Regions from separate parts of the Homo sapiens genome. Here region 1 is linked to region 2. The links come from fine-mapping of genetic effects on gene expression. A gene starts in region 2. The other region holds a variant in brackets. All regions are shown on one strand. Distances are between the middles of the regions. Region 1 overlaps IL16 (interleukin 16). Region 2 holds the start of IL16 (interleukin 16).

Evidence for each region. PIP is the estimated chance that this variant, and not a neighbour inherited with it, causes the effect.
Region 1: its variant is fine-mapped to the expression of IL16 in whole blood (TOPMed, PIP above 0.99).

What each region holds. Positions count from the first base shown.
Region 1 is chr15:81,305,260-81,310,636 of GRCh38, reverse strand. IL16 (interleukin 16) reads right to left here. Exons shown (of 19, transcript NM_172217.5): 17 at 4,471-4,729; 18 at 4,092-4,217; 19 at 1-2,032. The coding sequence ends at 1,839. STARD5 (StAR related lipid transfer domain containing 5) reads left to right here. Exons shown (of 6, transcript NM_181900.3): 6 at 1-1,584. Among named protein-coding and RNA genes, the nearest start is that of STARD5, 16 kb to the left of the region's middle. RefSeq lists a silencer at 1,906-2,083. The variant A/C (reference allele first, on the strand shown) is at 2,434.
Region 2 is chr15:81,194,090-81,199,466 of GRCh38, reverse strand. IL16 (interleukin 16) reads right to left here and starts at 2,588. Exons shown (of 19, transcript NM_172217.5): 1 at 2,315-2,588.

The DNA.
Region 1 (5,377 bases), 110 kb before region 2:
TCACGTGGCCTCCTTGCCCAGCCTGGGTCATGGGAAGGGAGTGTTGAATTGAATCACGTCTTTCGTTGGTAGATTATGTTCATCTTCAATGTTTCTATTAAGTCTAAAAAGTGGATACAAATGGTGCCTCCAAGTTCTTGTCTAATTGCTTGTCTACTGCTTGACAAAATCCAGAATGGAATAGGCCAAACAAGTTAACCAGCAGGACAGAAACTGCTCTAAGCCCATTATTCCTTGAGATGAATAGAACAGTGAGCTGAACGCCTGCTCTAATGAAGCCACTAAAGGGGTTTACAGGAAGGTTAGGAGCCCAGATGGGTTTTGAGTCCACTGCTGGGAAACAGATTCTTCACTTCCTGTGGACCCTGGAGAAGCCATCAGATTACATTAACATGGCTCCACTGATGATGGCCTGAGAATTACTATTGTTTGTGTTTCATCTGTGTCCTTGCCAGGTCTTCCCCCACATCCTTACTTCACAGGATCAGGGGCTGAGAGGAGACCAATACTCTGGCCCAGGCCTGGTCAAGGGATGCTGGTTGTTGCTGATGCAAAGTCACATTGCCTGGTCCTGAGCTTGGCAATCAGGCATCCAGAGATGGCCAAACCAAATATCCCTTTGGCCAGGCACTCAGGCATTCCCTGTAATGTTGTGCACTTAAAGCATCTTGGGCTGATAGTCTCCACCGAATCACAGAAGAAAACTCAATCTGCCGCATCACTCACCAGCTGGATAAGCCATTTACTGTACACAGTGTGTGCCCTCTTATCAATACATTGGCACAGAACCATACACCGTAGAAGCTGCTGTGATCACTAAAGGCAATGCCCGTTTAGCCCTGAGCACAGTGCTTGGCATGTGGTAGGTAAGTAGTAGCAATTTTATTTGATACCCTCATATACACGCTGGTTCCTTCTGTCGGCACACCTGTCCACGCTTTGAGCTTGGTGCTTCACCTGTACTCCTCTGTTTACTGGCTCCACCACCCTTCCCTAGGATTACTTCTCCAATCCAACCAAAAACAATTTTGCAAATGTTTCATGTGACAAACTGTATTTTTCATAAATGACCCCAGCAATATTTCCTCTCCCCTTAAACCCAGGCAGGTTTGTGTCAGCTCTAACTGATGGAGTATGGTGGAGGTGATGCCATGCAACTTCCAAGGCAAAGGTATAAACAAGATGCAGCTTCTACATGGCTCTTGCGATCCTGGGATGCTCATCCTGGGAATCCAGACACCATGTTGTGAGGAGGCCCAGGCCACAAGGAGAGGCCACCTATAAGCATTCAGGCCAGCAGCCCCAGGTGAGTTCCCAGCCAACATCAACGGCCAGATGTATGAGTGAATGATCTCACGTGGTCCCAGCCTTTGCATGACTTTGCATGACGCCAGCTGATGCCAAGTGGGACAGAGATGAGCTGCCCATTCCAATCTCTGCCCACATTGCAGATTCATGAGAAAAATAAATGTCACTGTTTGGGGGTGAATCATGACACAGTTACAGTACTTGAAACATTTTGCGAAGCCAGGCATGAATGTCATATGAAATTCTAATAAATCCATTTTATTTGTGGCACCACAATATTATCATTAAGCTCTCTTTTTACACAGTCTGCAATTTGTATCAGCTGCCCCCGTGTGACTCTGCCCTTATTTTAGGAACAACCTTTTGCTGGGTGGCGTCCTAGAAGGTCTGGGCCTGGGCAGCAGCCACTGGGAAGCCCACCTGTGCTTTCCCCCATCTGGGTGGGGCGGCAGCAGAGACCCTGAGAATCAGCGGTTATGGGAGCTGTGTGTTAGCTGTGTGTTATTGGCTTTGGCTTCAGCATGTCCTGCCTAGGAGTCTCCAGCAGCTGTGGTTTCCTTGGACTGGAGGCTTTTTCTCCTGATGACAATCGTGACAGGTCCATCAGGCAGTGCCTTGATGATGTTCCAGGCTTCAAACCGTGTGAGGCCCTGCATGGCAGTGCCACCCAGCTGTAAGATTTCATCTCCAGGCTGGACTGTCTCACTTTGTTCTGAGGCTGCTCCTGAAATGAGGGAGAAGGTAATGGGTTCCACAGATGATGGGGAACAAGGAAAGTTGCCTCCTCTCCTTGATCTCCAAAGAGCCAGGATAGCTTGGTAGAGAACAGGGCACCATCCCTTGGGAGCTTGCTTGTTGGTGGTTCTAAAATGAGGCATCTCTTAAGATGGTGACTCAGAGGTTAGGGCACCAGGCTCCAGCTCTCCATGGCCTTTGGAAAGGGATAGCCCTTGCTGTCCCCAGGGGAGGGAAATATCAGGCAGCTCCACGCCTTAGCCTGCCTGGAGCACCGTCCATAGTTCATAGAGGACTCTGGGGAGCTGAGTCCTGCCCAGACCCTGCTTTGGACACTGACCCAATATCCTACTCCCTTCACATTTGTTCTCCGCATGTGGTGAGGACATC[A/C]GCATTGGGTGGTATGGGAAGAGAGCTAGTGAGATTTTTGTGCAACAATATTTACAGGGATCTTGCCTCTGGCACGAAGTCCTCTGTGTCCACATAAAAAAGGAAACAACCATATATGGCCCCCACTATTTCAAAGCTGCAAGTGAAAACAATGCTATTTTACTGTTTATATTAAAATAAAATTTCCCATCCATTTGACACAGTGATCTTCACAAATCCTGATAAGAGTAGAAGATAATACTAATGATAGTAATGAAAATATAGCTAAAGTGTATTGGGCAATTATTTTAACAGGCGTTGTGCTAATGTTTTGCATTTATGACAGTAATCCTATGAGGGGTGTATTATTTGTGTTTCCTTTTAACAGCTGAGGAAACCAAGAACTCAAGTAACTGGCCCAGAGCTTCATAGCTGCTAGTGGTGGGCCCTGGGCTGGAACCCAGACTTTCTGGCTCCAGAATCTGCATCTCTCCTTCCAACATCACCCTGCAGCTGGCAGTCTCATCCTAAACATTTAAGCAAATGGGCCCATGGTGGTGAAGTGACTTGTCCAAGATCATGCTACCAAGGTCATGTGGCAGAACTAACACTGGAATCTAGTCCTCTTGACATTGAACCCAATGCTCCTTCCAAATTGACCTTCAAAAATTAGAAATATCTTTCCCAGAATTGGGGTTAACATGGATTCTGGGGGGAATGCCATGTAAGCCTCACTCTACCTTCTGGGTTTCTGCAGCCGCAGCAGAACTTCCTCTAACGAAACCAGTCAGCAGCAGGAGCTCATAGTGGGTGAGGGACAGAGCTAAGAGTCCCTTTGGGTCTCAGTCCTAAGAGCCCTCAGACACACACCTGTACCTCTTTACCTCCTTTTATGGATGAAGAGCCTCAGGCCCAGAAGGGAAGGGTCACTCAGCACATTACAGGCAGAGCTGGGACTAGAACCTGGCCCACCTGCCTCCCTGTCCAGTACTCCTCTCTCTACAACCCCTTGCTCTGTGGCTTGGAGACCTCCAATTTGAGGAACACCAAAGAATCAGGGATGGTTTTACATGGTAGCCACAGTCATTCATGATTTTCACAGGGAAATCCAAGTGACCCCCATATCAGACTGGTTTGTACTCCAATCCCTGATGAACAAAATATCTATCAACATTTTAAATAAAGGCAGGAGCTGACGTGTCCAGGACTAGGGTAAGGCAAATGAGGCCAAGTGTGCAGTACAAAGTCAGACTCTGTCTTGATTTAAACTTGGATATTTTGTCCAACATGTTTTTTTAAAATTAATTTTAAAAAACACGCTGCATTAAAATAGTATCGATCTGAGTTACTGAGTGTTTTGGCACCCCTTTAAAATTCTGCCCCACAGGCCAGTGCCTCACTGCCCCACTCTAGAGTCCTGGCCCTGCCAACCCGAACCAAGCCCAGGACTTAGGTATTTTTGAAGACCCATCAAAACAGAGGGGGGATTGAGGGGATGTCTGAGCAAAGGAGAAAAAGTAGAAAAAGCAGAATTGAGCCCTAAAAGGACCAGCATGCCTATGAAGAGGACATGGAGTTGTGGGAAACAACATAGCCCAGAAAGTGCCCAGAAGCCTTTTGGGGGCCTGGCCACATGCCCACAACTGGAGAGCACGCAAAGAACCAGACACACCCCACACCTTTGAAAATCCTGTTAATGGTGAGAGGCTTGTCTCCGTGTAGGGAGCCCTTCCCTCCTTCCAGGCTGAAGCCCAGCCCTGCCGACATCTTCTCCAGTGTCACCGTGCAGACTGTGGCCTCTGCTGCTGAGAAAAACACAAGGTCTCTGTTAGGGATCCTCTCCTCTCCCAGGCCACAGATGCCCTGGGCTTCAAGTGAGCCCGGGGTGATACAGCCCCCGTGTTTGCACACAGGCACATGTAAACACGTCTCAGGCAGTGTACTAGGCAGCCACACATTCTTGGGGTCACAAATTACTGAGTAGCCCCATCAGGTCTGGCCCCAAATGGCCAAAGAGGATGTGGCCCATGTGGCTTCCACTGAGTTGGGAGAACTTACTAGATTCTACAGAAACATCACTGGCTGCAGAGGCTGAGGCTGCAGAGTCAGTGGAGGAGTTGAGGTCGGGCATGGCCTCTGGAGTCAGCTTCCTTGTGACAATCACAGCTTGCCTGGGCTCTCGAGCTTGGCGGAGGATGGCCAAGGCATCATGGTGCGTGGTCCCCTTGAGAGACTTGCCGTTGATGGAAAGAACCTCATTGCCCTTCTGAATAGTCCCTTCCTGGGAGGCCAGCCCATTTGGAAACACTCTGTGAACCTGAGCAAACCAAAGGAAGTCAGGACCAGAAATCACACAAGTCCAGTCCACATACTTGCTGGAGGAGGATTGAACCGGTTAGTCAATGCTAGAGGATTTTTAGGCCAACAAAGATTAAAGATAATTGTGTCCTAGATTGGAGCTGCTGGCACAGAGGCCAGCATTCCCTCCTTCTCCATCCAGAGCAGAGATCACCAGCAGTAATGACCAGGTAAGCCCTCAGAATCCATCCCAACACAACGTCCTATAGTGTACCACCACGATTCTAGTTGGGATTCCATATAAAATCTTTTGCTTCACCTGCCCTAGGTCAGAAGTCCCCAGAGTAGTTTTCTCAAGGCACTGATTCTATGGCATATTAACGGGTATTGTGTAAGAAAAAGGCTTTTCCTATTATTTTTTAAAAAATAGAGACAGGGTCTCCCAGTGTTGCCCAGGATGGTCTCAAACTCCTGGGCTCAAGCAATCCTCTCACCTTGGCCCCGCACAGTGTTGGAATTACAGGTATGAGCCACCACACCCGGCCAAGAAAAATTTTTTAAAATCAAAGAAACTTGAGGAATACTGGGTGAAACAAAAGCTCTGACATTGTCTACTTTTAAAAAGCAAAAGGCATTAGAGGGTCTACAATGCAAATTTGCATGGCAG
Region 2 (5,377 bases):
CTCCAGCATCTCCAGATGTGGCAAGAACAGCGCCTCCCTCCTGATGGGCTCCGCCCTTCCACCCAACGTCCTTCACATCCACCTGAGACATCCACTGAGACTTCTCAGTGTTTCTGGCACACACTGAGCAACACTGTCTAGTTTACAAGACTGACATAGATTCGTCCTTATTTCAACAGGAATTCAAAAGAAGAACTTGAAGTAAATTCCTGATTTCAAGCTGCCTTCCTAGTTAACCACAACTCCAAGTTCTTGGAACTATTTGTTTATTTTGCCCCATGCCTATTTTCTCCCCGTGTTTATGAGCATATTGCTATTCACAATGAATTGCTTTTTAATAGCAAAACGTAACCTATATATGAAAATGTATTACCAATTCAAATGCACAATAAAAAATATGTATTTTATATATATATATATATATATATATATATATTTTTTTTTTTTGAGATGGAGTCTCCCTCTGTCACCCAGGCTGGAGTGCAGTGGCATGATCTCGGCTCACTGCAGTCTCCGCCTCCCGGGTTCAAGCAATTCTCCTGCCTCAGCCTCTTGAGTAGCTGGGATTACAGGCATGTGCCTCCACGCCTGGCTAATTTTTGTATTTTTAGTAGAAACAGGGTTTCACCATGTTGGCCAGCCTGGTCAGGAACTCCTGACCTCAAGTGATCCGCCCGCCTCGGCCTCTCAAATTGCTGGGATTACAGGCGTGAGCCACTGTACCTGGCCAGTAGATTTCAATTCAAAGTGTACCTCCCTCCCTCTCACTCCTATACCCCTGGGCCACTGCTGGGAACCAGAAAGGGGGAGGGGTTGACAAAAGGGCAGGTCTCAAGGTCCTGGTCTGCCTCTGCCAAAATAATTCTGCCTTAACTGATTATACATGAGTTTTCATGATAGATTTTAATTCTAAAAAGGTTTCCATGAATACAAACAATTAGAAAATAATAATTCTATAGTCAATTGCATCCAACAGAGATTATTTTTTAACCCTATGGATATATGACCATCTTTGTGTTGAGGAAACTCAAGTATTTATTGAGGCATGCCACAAAGCCAGTGAGAGCATGGATTTTGGAGTCAAGCTGGGTTTGGGTCCTGGGAACGTCTAGCTGAGTGGTCCTGTGCAAGCCTCCTCACCTCTCGGTTTGGGGATATACTCCCTAAGCTCCAGGTTGTTGTAAGGTTTAAATTAAATGAGGTATGTGAATATTTTAGCTTGGTGCCTGGGGCTTGAAGAGTGGCCAGGAAATGGTTGGGGTACTAAGTTTTATTTAAAAGACTCACTGGGGATTGAATAAATGAGCAGTAGAGGCTTCAAGGGTCTGACCCACCTGACGGCTCATGCCCACGTCATATCTGCAGCAGGGGAGGTGCCTTCTACTGTGCTCGTAAATGTTGACCATCACTTAACTTCAGGGTAAAGAAGGAGAACAGAGGAGGAAAAAGGCTGAACGGTCTTCTCCTTCCGGGGGAAACTGGAGAAATAGGAAGGGGAGCCACAGAGACGGCAGCTCCCAGGCTGCTTCCAGGAACCCAGTGGGAGCTTGAACTGGCCTCCTGGGACAAAGGGGTCGTCTTTGTATGGCTCAGCCTGAAGTGGGAGGATTTCACCTGATAAGGGCAGGAGGAGAAGATGCTTCCCTGTATTCCACAGGGAACCTCTATTCTTATGCTGTTACCTCATTCTCCAGCTACAGAAAGCAAACTTGCTATGGACCAAAAAAGAAAAAAACAAACAAACAAAAAACAAAAACAAAAAAACACCAATCCTGGGACCTACCAATGCAGGAATTAGTCACGGGACCCTTATCAAAAAGCAAGCAGAGTGAACACTTTTCCCATGGTCAATCTGCAGAGATGCCCACCCGCTGTGCCCACTTTGGAGAAAAGGAGTCTGGCCAGGCAGCAGAGAAGCCCCCATCAGGTGCCCCGTGGCCTTTCTCTCTCCTGCTGCCTTCCTTTCCTCCACCTCCTTCCACACCCCATTGCCAAGGATGAGACGAGGCTGAAAAGTCAGAAATCTCAGGACCAAATTCTCCCCGTGCTGCAGAGCCAGGTCAAGCGATATCCCTCTGCCCGCTCTGGCCTTCTGAAGCTGCTTCCTCCTGTACCTAACTGTGACATGGTGACACAGAGATTCCTACCAACACAATCCTGGCTTCTGCTCCTGCCCCTGACCCCAGCACCACTTCCAAATATGAAGTTACGTCCTAGCAACCAAGACCCTCCCCATTCAGGTCAGAGAGGCCAGCTTCCTCCCTCCGGTAACGGCCACCTGGACAGAGCAGCTGCCTGACAGACATTCACTCACCTGGTGCCCACCTACCTCCCTATGCACAGTCCCCCGGGGCTGCCATCTCCCTTGCTCCTCTCTCCATCTGCCCAGCAGGGATTGCAGCACCACTTATTCCCGGACAGCCTGTGGCCCAGGCCTGGGTCAGAGCCGGCAAGGATTGAGAAATGGACGCTCAGTTCTCAGACGGAGGCCGGCCTTTGAGTCAGATCCCAGGCTCCGATAGTTGAGATGCCGTGAGTAGGACACAATATTCACCACCTGCTCTGGACAGGTGACTCAGGACAAATGTGTCCCACCTGGCATGGATTTGCTCGAAGACTCCTGATCTGAGCCATCTGACTGCTCCACGTGAAAAGGCTTGATCCAAAAAGGGGGGCTGCCAGTGCTGAGAAGCTCAGCCTCAGAACAAGGTCCACCATCTGCTGGGCTGGCCGGCAACACCCAGGAGGCAAACCCAGTGCAGAGCCACAGAACCACAGTGAGGTTCCTTGGTCCAGCCCAGTTGCCCCTGCCTTCTTTGGACAACACAGAAATGACTAGGAGAGCCGAAAGGTAGCAGACATGACTCGGTGCCTGCAATGTGCCTGGCACGCTGCTAGGAGCTTTCTATAAACCTCATCACATGCTGGAAGCTGTGGCACGTGCCTATAATCCCAGCTACTCAGGAGGCTGAGGCAGAAGGATCACTTGAGCCGGGGGATTCAAGACAAGCCCGGGCAAACCATAGCAAGAACTCCTCTCAAATTATATAAAAATTTAATAAAAAGAGGAAAAAAGTCATCACATACAATCCTGCCATCAATCTGGTAAATATATCACCTGCTTTGCAGACAAAGAAAGCCACTGCACAAACGTTCATTAAACACCTACTACGTGCCGTGGAATTTCCCCAAGGTCACACAGTTAGCAAGTTAGCAAGTCAAAATCCACCTGTCTCCAAAGCCCAGGCTTTTTCCATAGCATTTCATTTCTTGTCTGTGCCACCCTTTCCCAAAAACAACAGACTGGCTCTCAGAAGCTTATGTAACTCAGTGGTCCTCAAGCCAGCTGCATCAGCAGCATCTGCTAGAAATGCAAGTTCTCAGGCCCTGGCCTAGACCTCCTGAAGCAGCACCTCTGGCACTCTGTTTTCACAAAGCCTCCAGGTGATTTTGGTGCGTGCTCAGGTGCGAGAGCCCATGACCTAACGTATACAGAGCATGTTGAAAACTGCAGCATAAAAGAATGGGGCACTTTTGTGTGTGTCCTGTTGGCATTAGTGTCATGAGACCAGAGTGCCTTTCCCCCACGTAGCCCCTTGGAGAATCTAATCATAAGGTGGCATTTAATCCATCTGCCCCGCAAAGAGCATCCCACACATCTCTCCTAAGCTCAGTCTCTGTGAGCCCTGTGTACATGCTAGGCTGAGGTTTTTGTATGGACCTCTCTTCTAAAGAATGGAATGTTTCCCAACGCTCAGCACCAAATGTTTCAGGGCTTCCTGGGGGCTTTAATGAGGGTGTAGGTGCAACCTGTAGGAAGCCCTTGAAATTCCATGCAAGGCTGCAAAGATCTAGCCGCTGCTGCTGGAGAACACAGGCCCACGGTCCCAAGGGAAGCACGGGAGGAGGGAGCACTCTGGGGATAAAGCTGCCTTTGTCAGCAGGCACAGGGGACATTGTAGGGCTGAGTCTGGAGTGAGTCTGGAGTGCAGTGAAGGAATTTCTAAATTGCAGAGAGTGAGCGCCTCTGTCAGTGTCGCCTGCTCAGCTCACACCCACAATCTCTCTCACAATGGCCTGGGTGCGGTGGGGCCAGGACAGACTCAGGCCCCACTTCCATCTTGCTCTGGCAGAGAGGCTGAGGAGCAATTCAGCACCCCAGGGCTATGGGGGCTGGCCTTGCCCTTCTTGGATCCTGAGGCCTGGGAGGGCCCCACAGCCCCCCTCCTCCACTAAGTCTAAGCTCTCTCTTGTCATCGGCACCTGAATCCAGTTCCCGCCTCTCCCTCTATTTTCCGAAGATCTGTTCTTTCTCACTCTCAGAAGGTAAATTTATTCCAAAGTGTAGTTGAGACTTGGCCCTGATTTTTCCTAATACGGGGTGGTTTGTGCTTCAAGGTGGAAATTTTATCACCCCTCTGCCCTTCAGGACATCCTGCAGAAAGAGTCTCCACCCTGCCCAACACTCCATAGTCCAGCTCACTGCAAGCCAGAAGAGACGGGGAGGAAGACGCAGGTGAGAGAGCCCCGCCCTGGTTAGAACTAGGAAGTTCAAGCACCACTTGAAGCTCAACCAAGAGCTTCCTGTGTGATCTTGGTCATTCACAGCCTTAGTTTGCTACGATGAAAATTAGATGAAATTAATTGTCTGCCAGATGAAATTAGAAACTTCTACTGCACAGTGTTACTGAGAGAATGAGGCAATAGAGGAGGAAGCATGCTGCCAACAGCTAACCAAGCAGAAGCCTGCTCACCTTTTTGGCCCTTCCAGCCCACGGAACTGAGAAATCTGTTCAACAAGTGATTCTGATGCTTGCTAAAGTTTCATAATCAATAACCTGTATTTCCTTCTAATTCTCCTATTTTTTAATTACAAAATTTTATTTCCAAAAGTAAATTTTTAATTACAAAAATTTTAATTACAAAATTAAAATTATAAATTTTGAAAAATTAATTTAAAAAATTTTAATTTTAAAAATTCTAATTTAATTTTTAAAAATTAAAATTACAATTACAAATTTAAATTTAATTTAAAAAATTAAAATTACAAAAATTTTTAATTTCAAAATTTTAGTTATAAAAGTAATACATGTTTGTTGTGGCAAGTAAACATATTCAGAAGGCAAAAAGAAAGTGTGTCCTTAAAATGACACAACAGGGTCATCTCCTATTCTGTTCAAACAATGGCAAAATAAAGAGCTTAGGGTCAGAGCAATAAGCCCCAGCTTCTGTACTAAGCGGCTCTGTCAACTGCAAGTCCTTTTACCTTACTGAGTCTCAGTTTCCATGTCCACAAAATGGAAACAATAACCCAATAATCTGACAGGGCTGCTCAGAGGTCTGAGCAAAGAGCTGTCCTGCAATCTATAAAATGCCT